Linked DNA regions of Homo sapiens: region 1 is linked to region 2. Evidence: fine-mapped expression QTL. A gene starts in region 2. The other region holds a variant in brackets. All regions are shown on one strand. Distances are between the middles of the regions. Region 1 holds the start of SERPINB6 (serpin family B member 6). Region 2 holds the start of RIPK1 (receptor interacting serine/threonine kinase 1).

The links.
Region 1: its variant is fine-mapped to the expression of RIPK1 in whole blood (TOPMed, PIP 0.99).

Annotation. Positions count from the first base shown.
Region 1 is chr6:2,970,333-2,975,709 of GRCh38, reverse strand. It overlaps SERPINB6 (serpin family B member 6), which reads left to right and starts at 4,143. Exons shown (of 7, transcript NM_004568.6): 1 at 4,143-4,177. RefSeq lists an enhancer at 3,838-4,362. The variant A/G (reference allele first, on the strand shown) is at 2,377.
Region 2 is chr6:3,066,301-3,071,677 of GRCh38, reverse strand. It overlaps RIPK1 (receptor interacting serine/threonine kinase 1), which reads right to left and starts at 3,184. Exons shown (of 11, transcript NM_001354930.2): 1 at 3,017-3,184. RefSeq lists a silencer at 2,526-3,315.

The sequences.
Region 1 (5,377 bases), 96 kb after region 2:
GTTATAAAGTTAATACATAAAAACAATTTTCTCATCCACAAACAAAAGCTAGTTGGAAAATATAATGGAAAAAACTTGCTTACATACAATATCAACAAAGAGATAAAATAACTAGAAATAAACTAAACAAGAAATGTGCAAATCTTACATGAACAAAACTTTAAAGGAAAAAGGAAAAAAATTATTTGAAGGAACAGAAAGACCCAGCATGTTCTTGGCTAGAACAACTAAATCAAAGTACAAATGTTGGTTTATAACAGGGTAATATGTAAATTCAATATGTTTCTAATAGATTACCAACAAGATTTATTTTTATTTTCATTTATTTTATTTTTATTTTATTTTATGTTTTTGAGACAGAGTCTCGCTCTGGTGATCCACTCACCTCTGCCTCCCAAAGTCCTGGGATTATAGGCGTGAGCCACTGCATCTGGCCTGTTTGACTACAGTTTAATTTTATTTTTTTAATTATTATATATATATTTTTTTGAGACAGGGTCTCGCTCCATCATCCAGGCTGGAGTATAATGGCACCATCTCAGCTCACTGTAACCTCTGCCTCCCAGGTTCAAGCAATTCTCCTGCTTCAGCCTCCCAAGCAGCTGGGATTATAGGCACACGCCACCAGGTCCAGCTAATTTTTGTATTCTTAGTAGAGATGGGGTTTCACCATGTTGGCCAGGCTGGTCTTGAACTCCTGACCAAGTGATCTGCCTGCCTTGGCCTCTCAAAGTACTGAGACTACAGGTGTAAGCCACCATGCCCTGCCAACAAGATTTTTTTCTTTAGAGCTAGACAAGTTGACTCTTAAATTTGTATGGGTGAGGCCGGGTGCGGTGGCTGACACCTGTAATCCCAGCACTTTGGGAGGCTGAGGAGGGTGGATCATGAGTTCAGGAGTTTGAGACCAGCCTGGCCAACATGGTGAACCCTCATCTCTACTAAGAATACAAAAATTAGCTGGGTGTGGTGGCATGCGCCTGTAATACCAGCTACTTGGGAGGCTGAGGCATGAGAATCGCTTGAACTCAGGATATGGAGGTTTCAGTGAGCCAAGATCGCACCACTGCACTCCAGCCTGGGTGACAGAGAGGGACTCCAGCTCAAAAAAAAAAAAAAAAGTTTGTATGGGAGAAAAAGCAACAAGGAGAGCCAGGAAAATCTGAAGCAGAAGAGCAGTAAGGAGAATGCGCTGTACGAGATATTGAATCATAAGAGAAAACCTCTATAACTGAAAGAATCTGACCAACAGAACCAAATAGAAAGTTTAGAAAGTTCAGAATCAGACCCAAGTATATGCAGCTATTTGATATATAACATAGGTGGCATGTGAAGACATTAGTGAAAATGGTTTTTCAATAAACAGAGGTGGAAAAACTGAAAGTCACTTGAAAGCGAGTTAAAATTGGATCTATATTTCCCATACACCAGAATAAACTTTAAAGGGATCAGCAATCTAAATATAAAAAATAAAACTGTGCAAATACTAGAAGAAAACATTAGTGAACTCTATAATCTAGAGATTATTCTTTTTTTTAAAAAAAAAGAGATTGCTCCTTGTGAATAGAGAAAGTTTTTCTAACTACGACTCAGAAACAATAAAGGAAAAATCATTAAAGTTGACTACATTAAAAGAGTGTATGCCAAAATCACCAGAAGCAATGTCAGAAAACAGATGACAAGCTGGGGGAAATATTCGCAATTTATATCACTTAAGACTAATTAAGCCACAACTAGGGAGGGGCGTGTGGTTTGCTCCTGGCATCCACTTGGTGAATCTCCTCCAGAGATTCTGTGAAACATGTGTGATGGCAGGACAGCCCCCACAACCACAAGTTATCGGGTTCATGCGGTCAACAGTGTCGCAGTTGAGAAACTCTGCCTTAGGGTAAGCACAGAGGGAGTAAAACAGCTTGAGTTCTCAAAATTGAACTCATGTAAAACACCTGGCTAGTATCTTCCCTACTTCCATTTATGCTAGATGTTTCTGTTTTCCAAGACTGCTCTGTCTGAGATGGCAGATGGAGTTTTCATACTTACTTGGCTAACCTGTCAGTACCCTGGGGTCTAATTCCTATGCCTGGAGAGAACTGGAAGTCCTTGAACACACGGCTCAATGATGTGGGCTCTGCTCATTTATATACATTTATTTTTAAATTTAATATATATTTTAGTTTTTTTATTTCCATAGTTTTTTGGAGAACACGTGGTATTTGGTTACATGGCAAGCTTTTTTTTTTTTTTCCTGAGATGGGGTCTTGCTCTGTTGCCCAGGCTGGGGTGCAGTGGCATGATCTCAGCTCACTGCAACCAACCTCCGCCTGCTAGATTCAAGCAATTCTCCTGCCTCAGCCTCCTCAGTAGCTGGCACTACAG[A/G]TGTGTGCCACCATGCCTAATTTTTTTATATTTTTAGTAGAGACGGGGGTTTCACCATGCTGGCCAGGCTGGTCTCGAACTCCTGACCTCATGATCTGCCTGCCTTGGCCTCCCAAAGTGCTGAGATTACGGGCATGAGCCACTGCGCCCTGCCAAGTAAGTTCTTTAGTGGTGATTTGTGAGATTCTGGTGCATCTATCACCTTAGCAGTATACACTGAACTCAAATTTGTAGCCTTTTATCCCTCACTCCCTTCCCACCCTTTTCCCCCAAGTCCCCAAAGTCCATTGTATCATTCTTATGCCTTTGTATCCTCATAGTTTAGGTCCTACTTATGAGTGAGAACATACAATGTTTGGTTTTCCATTCCTGAGTTACTTCACTTAGAACAACAGTCTCCAATCCCATCCAGGTTGCCAATGCCATTAATTCATTCCTTTTTATGGCTGAGTAGCATTCCACCGTATACGCATACCACAGTTTCTTTATCCACTCTTTGATTGATGGGCATTTGGGTTGGTTTCATGTTTTTGCAATTACGAATTGTGCTGCTATTAACATGCGTGTGCAAGTATCTTTTTTGTATAATGACTTATTTTCCTCTGCGTAGATACCCAGTAGTGGGATTGCTGGATCAAATGGTAGTTCTATTTTTAGTTATTTAAGGAATCGCCATACTATTTTCCACAGTGGTTGTACTATCCATCAGCAGTGTAGAGGTGTTCCCTCTTCACCAAATCCACGCCAACATCTATTATTTTTTGAGTTTTTGATTTTTTGATTAAGGCCACTCTTGCGGGAGTAAGGTGGTATCACATTGTGGTTTTGATTTGCATTTCCCTAATCATTAGTGATGTTGAGCATTTTTTCTTGTTTGTTGGCCATTTGCATATCCTCTTTTGAGAACTGTCTATTCATGCCAGCCCACTTTTTGATGGGATTTTTTTTTCTTGCTAATTTGTTTGAGTTTCTTGTAGATTCTGGATATTACTGCTTTGTCGGATGTATAGATTGTGAAGATTTTCTCCCACTCTGTAGGTTGTCTGTTTACTCTGCTTGACTATTCCTTTTGCTTTGCAAAAGCTATTTAGTCTACTTTTTTTTTTTTTTTTTTTTTTTTTTTTTTTGAGACGGACCAGACTGGAGTGCGGTGGCGCCATCTCGGCTCACTGCAGCCTCTGCCTCCCGGGTTCAAGTGATTCTCCTGCCTCAGCTTCCCCAGCAACTGAGATTACAGGCACGCGCCATTACACTCGGCTAATTTTTGTATTTTTAGTAGAGACGGGGTTTTGCCATGTTGGCCAGGCTGGTCTGGAACTCCTGACCTCCAGTGATCCGCCTGCCTCGGCCTCCCAGTGTTGGGATTACTGGCGTGAGCCCCGCGCCCGCCCCTGGCTGGCTTCTTTGCCGCAAGCTGTTTCATCAGCAAAGTCTTTGTGACCTGTATCTAGTCTGCTCATTTTTAAATGCGTGTTCTGCACTCCCCAGTGGATGGCCGTGTATCAGGAGCCGGCCCTTTTCTGGAAACAGGCCAGCATTCAGTCTCCACAGAGGCACCATAAACACGCTGGTGGGGCCCTGTACTGTGGTCAAAGTCAAGGCCTCCGGGCAGGACTCGCGGCCCCTCCGGCTGGCGGGTGGGGTTGACCCGCACGTCCCGCCCCGCCTCTCCCTTCGCGCTCCGGACGGGCGACGGTAGCTCGAGACCCGGGACTCCGCCCGCCTCCCCGCGAGTATTTGAGGTCCGGGGCGGCTCCGGCGCCTCTGCCCGCCGTTCTGCTCGCTCGCTCCCCGCTCTGGAGTACGTGTCTGGCTTGGGAGCCGCTCGGACACGCTGGCTTGGGTTTGTCGCTCCAAAGTCGGGAAAGCCGGGGGCGCGAGCGGGGAGGGGGGCAGGGTGGGGGTCGCGCGGGGCCGGGAACGCGCGTGGGTCGACGGCGCGCGGGGACGCTGGAGCCCCGAGAATGGGGCGTGGCCGCGCGGGGCTGTGACCCCAGCAGTCCCAGCGGGGCGGGGGCCCGGGCGAGCGTCCGGCTTGGGTTCCCTTCCGGAGCCTCGCAGCGGCAGAGAACGGCGACGCGGCCGGGTGAGTCGTGCGTGGCCGCGAGCCCGGCCGGTGACGCCGCGGACCCGAGGACCCCGGGCGCCCAGGCCCAGCGCCCACGGAAGAGGCGGCCGGCGCGGGATGGGGGCGGCGCAGAGCCTCCCGGGCCACAGGTGACCCCGGTCGGCCCCGCGGCCTCGGTGACCCCTCGCCCGCTCCGCGACCCGGAGGACGCGTGCTCAGTCTTGGGGCGCCGGGTGTTAGGAGCCGGGCGGGAGGCGGAGAGAGGCCGAGGGGTTCGGCGCCAAACGGTGCCATCCGGGCCCCCTGCGTGTGTTCACTGGACTGGCCGTGCTGGGCTTGGCCAATCCGCAGCACTTTCAGGTCGCCCAGACCTGTGGAGACGATCGTGTGGACCAGCCCGGATCTCCTTACCGCTCTGTGTTTGAATTAAACTCCCTACAGGCAAACTATTACAGGCTTTGATGTCTTCAAGGCAAAGAGGAAACTTTAACTACAAATTGGCATTTAAGTTATTTTCTTCCTTTTTTTTTTTTTTTTTTTTGTCCTAAAGATTGGCTTCGGAAAACTGAGGTACAGAAAATTAATAATTAATGTTCACATGCTGTCAGGAATACTCAGATGCGAGGGGGCATCTGAGTCCATTTTTTGGGCACTTTTGCTTTCTGGGATGCTCTCGTGCCTAATGACAGCCCTGCAGCTGCCTGCATCCTTTCTGGTGGGGGTCAGGCCTGATGCGATGAGATCTGATGTGTTCAGTGACCTTCTAGTTAAGGTCCTGGGCCGGCCTTGTATTGCTGGGGCTTTTATGTGTGCTGGGATTAACACCAGTGACTGCTGTTATCAGCATAGATGGCGTTTGTTCTCATTTCAGGACCGTATCTGAGTAATTGCATCCATTGTGATGTGCCACCAAAGAGAAAAGTACTTTGGTCA
Region 2 (5,377 bases):
TCAGTGATTTCTTTTGTTTTTCCTATCCACCCCTCTTTTTTCCACATGAAAGATTCAACTTTATGAGCACTGAATATCTTAGGAAGGCCTTGTGAGTAGTTGAAGGATATACAAAAACAGTGAATTTAGGCAGCTTATATGGCCATACTGCATAACCATATTATTACAAAGCCATGACACAGAGTGACAAAGACATGCTGGCCTGTTATAGCAAATAATTTTAACTAATAATTACGTCCATTTGAAGGAATTTGTAAATGTTTTGCATAAATATTAATTCAGGGACTCAGGACAGTGAATTTGTTTCTATTGAAATTAATGTGAAATCTCAAGGAATTTCACGATTACCTTCTAAGGCAGGGTAAGTATACATATCAAAATATTCTAATTAACTTTTTCCCCATTTTTCTATGATGACCACACATAACAAGAGAATGGCAGAAAATGCTGGTTGCCCACCTGCCATTGCCCCCTTTCTTCCCACTAACAGAATTCTGATTTTGCTCAGCTATCCAAGTGACCAGAGGATTTCTCCAACTTCCTTGATTACAGCAGCCTGATGCTTTGCCTGGATAAACAAAAGCTCTGAGCAAGGAAGAGACTTAAGGACCAGCAAGAGACAAGAATTGAAACAGAGTTTAAACAAGCATCATAACCCCTGAAGCAAATTTTATCATGATTTCAATTTGCAAATAAAGAAACTAAGATTTGGAGCTAAGTGATTCACCTAAAGTGGTAGGATCCTGGAATGAAATATTTGTCCCTTCATTCAAACTTTCACTATTGGCTCACTAATACATGCTACTTCTCTAGATAGCAAATAATCTGTCTTCGGAAAAATCCAGATGCAAAGACCCACCCTTACAGCCTTACTCATCTATATTAAATAAATGTGCGACAGTCAGAAACACGGAGAAAGTACAGAATAAACTTTTTAAATACAGGAAGGTGAGGTGCAGGGGCTCATGCCTGTAATCCCAGCACTTTGGGAGGCCAAGGAGGGCAGATTGCCAAGAGTTTGAGACCAGATTGGCCAACGTGGTGAAGCCCTGTCTCTACTAAAAATACAAAAATTAGCCAGGCATGGTAGTGCATGCCTACAATCCCAGCTTCTTGGGAGGCTGAGGCAGGAGAACTGCTTGAACCCGGGAGGCGAAGGTTACATTAAGCCGCGATCGCGCCACTGCACTCCAGCCTGGGTGACAGAGCAAGACTCTGTCTCAAAAATAAAAATACACGGCTCATGTATTTTTGAAATATATGGTTCAAAATCAATGTTCTACAGATTAATACAGTCAACCTTTTTTGCCAGAATGTAATATCCAACTAAAGCATGGGAAATTAAGTATTTTCTTCAAATTCCCAGATCATATGGATGTTAACACGTTATAGATTAATAAGCACCAAAAAGTAAGCTGCCCAGTTTGAAAGAGGCTGTTTAAGAGCTTTTCTTAATACTCATTAATATTCACATTCCAGAAAGTACAACATATCTCTGAGGCTCAGTATAGTTCAGACAGAGGAAAATGAGTATTAAAAGTTATCATTTTTGCTATTTTATCAGTAATAATGATACACTCCAAATTTCATTTTAAACAAGCCTAGTCTTCACTTTTTGTGAATAGAAGAGCTGCAGTATTCCCCATTTCTTTATTTATTTTTTTTTTTGATACAGAGTCTCCCTCTGTCGCCCAGGATAGAGTGTAAGTGGCAATCTCGGCTCACTGCAACTACCGCCTCCTGGGTTCAAGCCATTCTCCTGCCTCAGCCTCCCGCGTAGCTGGGATTACAGGGACCCGCCACCACACCTGGCTAATTTTTGTATTTTTAGTAGAGACAGGGTTTTGCCATGTTGGCCAGGCTGGTCTCGAACTCCTGACCTCAGGTGATCCTCCCACCTCGGCCTCCGAAGTGCTCGGATTACAGGAGTGAGCCACCGTGCCCGACGCAGTATTCCACATTTCTAACAAGACAATTTCCTCTTGACTCAGTCCATCTTCCTAGCAGTCACAGAATGCAGATGAGTACTAAGACATTGCACATTTCAAAGTTCACTTCCTGCCTTGGCTTCTTCAAGTGTAAGTCAGGGAAGAATTAATCATTGGAACAGCCTCCTGCTTTGCCCAAAATAAAAAAGAGCTCTGATTAAGGGAGAGCCAAATGGTCAGCAAGAGAGAAAGAACTAACAACCCCAGACCTCCCCCTGCCCCCGCAACCCCCGCATCCCTGTGAGGCTTTGTCAAATGCTTAGGGAAGGAGGATGCAGCCTATCCTCTTCCCAACCCTCAAGAGGGTCCGCAGCACTTCACAAAAGCACCTGCCAGTGACAGAAGCCTGCTAGGGTTACCACATTCGTCCCCTCAGTCGTCTAAGATCACGCAGAAATGCTTTTGTTTTTGGAACCTGCTGCGGCCTCAAGCGCAACAGTAAAAGGCCCTTTCAAAGGGCTGGTAAGGGAAGAGCCCAAACTGTTTTTTCTTAATGATAGGGCACTAGGAGCCCACCTTCTCCACCAAAACAACATTAATGGCGTGTGGGACTGCCTATTCCACCCTCACGCGGTAACCGCGGCCCAAAGGCAGGTCTCCGCCCGCTACCAGTCCAGCGCCCCGACCTCTGGCACAGAGGCGGCCAGCGGACTCCGGATAAGCAGAGACACCTAGCGGAGCACCCCTGACTTCCGGGAGCGCCCGCGGCCCCGCCCACCGCCCGACTTCCGGTACCGGCGGGGCCCGCCCGCCGCGCGCACCCCGGGCAGAGTCCCTCTCCTTCCGGGAAGCCCGCGGCCGCCCCGGCCTCCACGCAAGCACCCGAGCGTTACTTTCGTTTCCGCGGCAAACGTCTGGAGGCCCGGGTGAGGGAAGAAGCGGCGGCGGAGGGTTGGGGATTACTCCGACGCCGCGGCAGCCTTGCCCGGGCGTGCTGGGGGAGGGCGCGCGAACCCCGACCAGGGGGGTCACCGGGACTGAGCCCGGCGGCCTCCGGAATGTTCCCCGCGCGGTGCCAGTCCGCTCACCGCGCCCTTCTCCGTGGCCGCGCCGTCCAGCCAAGTCCTGCCGCGCTCCGTCGGCCCCGCCCGGATGGCCGCGCTCTGGCGCCCCAGCTGTGGGTCCCCTGGAGTCGCCGCGCTCCGGCAGCTGGCCCGCCGTCCGCGTCGAGCGCGCCCGGCTGGAGGGCGTGGACTGTTCGCGCTGCCTCCTCCCCCTGCCCCGGCCCTTGCCGGGGAGGAGGACCGCGAGAGCGCCGCCCCGCCGCTCGTGGGACCTCGCGCCCGGGGTCTGAGTCCCGGAGCTCTCTTGCGGGCTAGAGGATCGCGGACTTTGTTTTCAAGCGAGTGGGGCGGCCTACGTAAAAGAGGAAACCGAAACCTCCGCGCGCACGAGAGGGAGAAGGGTCTGGAGGGAAGCACTGGGTGGATTACAGCGGGGGCGCTATCCGGAGGATTCAGAGCTCTGCGGGTTAGCATAGGCAAGTTAGCATTCCTCTACCTTCATCTGTAAAGTGGGGCTGTTGAGGAGGAAATGTGATTATTTTGCAGCCCTTTAAAATGGTAATTGTGAAGTCTCGAGCAAAGTTGGAACTGCATGCTATTCATGTATATTAAAAATCAAATAATAAAATTATATGCACATCAGGCCGGGCGCGGTTGTTCACGCCTGTAATCCCAGCACTTTGGGAAGCCAAGGCGGGCGGATCACTTGAGGTCAGCAGTTCGAGACCAGCCTGGCCAACATGGTGAAACCCCATCTCTACTAAAAAATACAAAAATCAACTGGGCGTGGTGGCGGGCACCAGCAATCCCAGCTACTCGGGAGGCTGAGGCAGGAGAATCCCTTGAACCTGGGAGGTGGAGATTGTAGTGAGCCGAGATCGCGCCACTGCACTCCAGCCTGGGTGACAAGAGCAAGATTCCGTCTCAAAAGGAAAAAAAAAAAAAGCACAACAGGATTACATACTGTGAAAAGATATGTATGTCAAGAGAACTAGCCACGTTCACAACACGAGCCACAGACTGGGAGAAAATATTTGCAAAAGACATATCTGATAAAGCACTGTGACCCAAAATATACCAAAAAAAACCCTCTTAAAATGCAACAATATGAAAATGTACAACTTGATTAAAGGCGGGCAAAAGCTCTGAACATACACCTCACCATATGTATATGCATATGAAAAGATGCTCAACATCATGTCATTAAAGAATTGCAATTTAAAAAAACAAATACTATTACACATTTATTAGAATGGCTAAAATTCAGAACACTGACAACAACAAATGTTGATGAGGATCTGGAGCACAAGGAACTCCCATACATTCCTAGTGGGAATGCCTAATGTTAGAGTCTGGAAGACATTTTGGCAATTTCTTAACCAAGCTCTTCTTACCATAAGATGAAGCAACTCCACACCTTGGTATTTACCCAAACGAGTTGAAAGCTTATGCCCATACAAACACCTGTACAAGAATGTCTATAGCAGCTTTATTCATAATTGCCAAAACTTGAGGGCATCCAAGATATCACTTAATGGGTGGACAGATAAGCTGTGGTACATCTATACAATGGAATATTAAGTGCTAAAAAGAAATGAGCTCTGAAGCCACAAAAAAAAAAAAAAAAAAAAAAATCCTGGAGCAATCCTAAATGTATAAATCTAAGTGAAAGAAGCCAATCTGAGAAGACTACATAATGCATGATTCCAACTATGTGACATTCTGGAAAAGGAAAAACTACGGAGATAGTAAAAAAGATCAGCGGCTGCCAGGGATTTGCAGGGAAGGAGGGATGGATAGGTGAGGCACAAGGGATTTTTAGGGCAGTGGAGTCTGACGTTACAGGGTTGGGTACATCTCTATACATTTGTCAAATGTATCTTGAATATACACAAAGAGCAAAACCTAACAAACTCCGGACTTTGGCTGATAATGTATATGTTTTATCCATATTGGTTCATTTTTGTAACCATGAATCTATGTTGGTTTATCAGGTGTGACAAATATTCCACAGTAATGCAGGATGTTGATGGTAGGGGAGGCTGTACAGTCCAGGATGTTTGTGGAAGGGGATATTTTCTTTCTGCTTAGTTTTGCTGTAAACCAAAACAGCTCTAAAACAAAGTCTATTCATTATTTTTTAAAAGATGTACACATATCAAAAAAGACGAAAGGCAGAGCTATTCACTCAGCAAAGCTTTCTATCTACTGTATGCCAAGCAGGTACTAGATACAAGAGCATCTGGTGATAGATACAAGAAATACAAAAAGGAATTCATTCCTTCAGTAAATATTTACTGAGCACCTGTTCTAGGCACTGAAGACTCGGTTGTGAATTAAACACAAAAAATCTCTATGTTCTGGCCGTGTGTAGTGGCTCACACC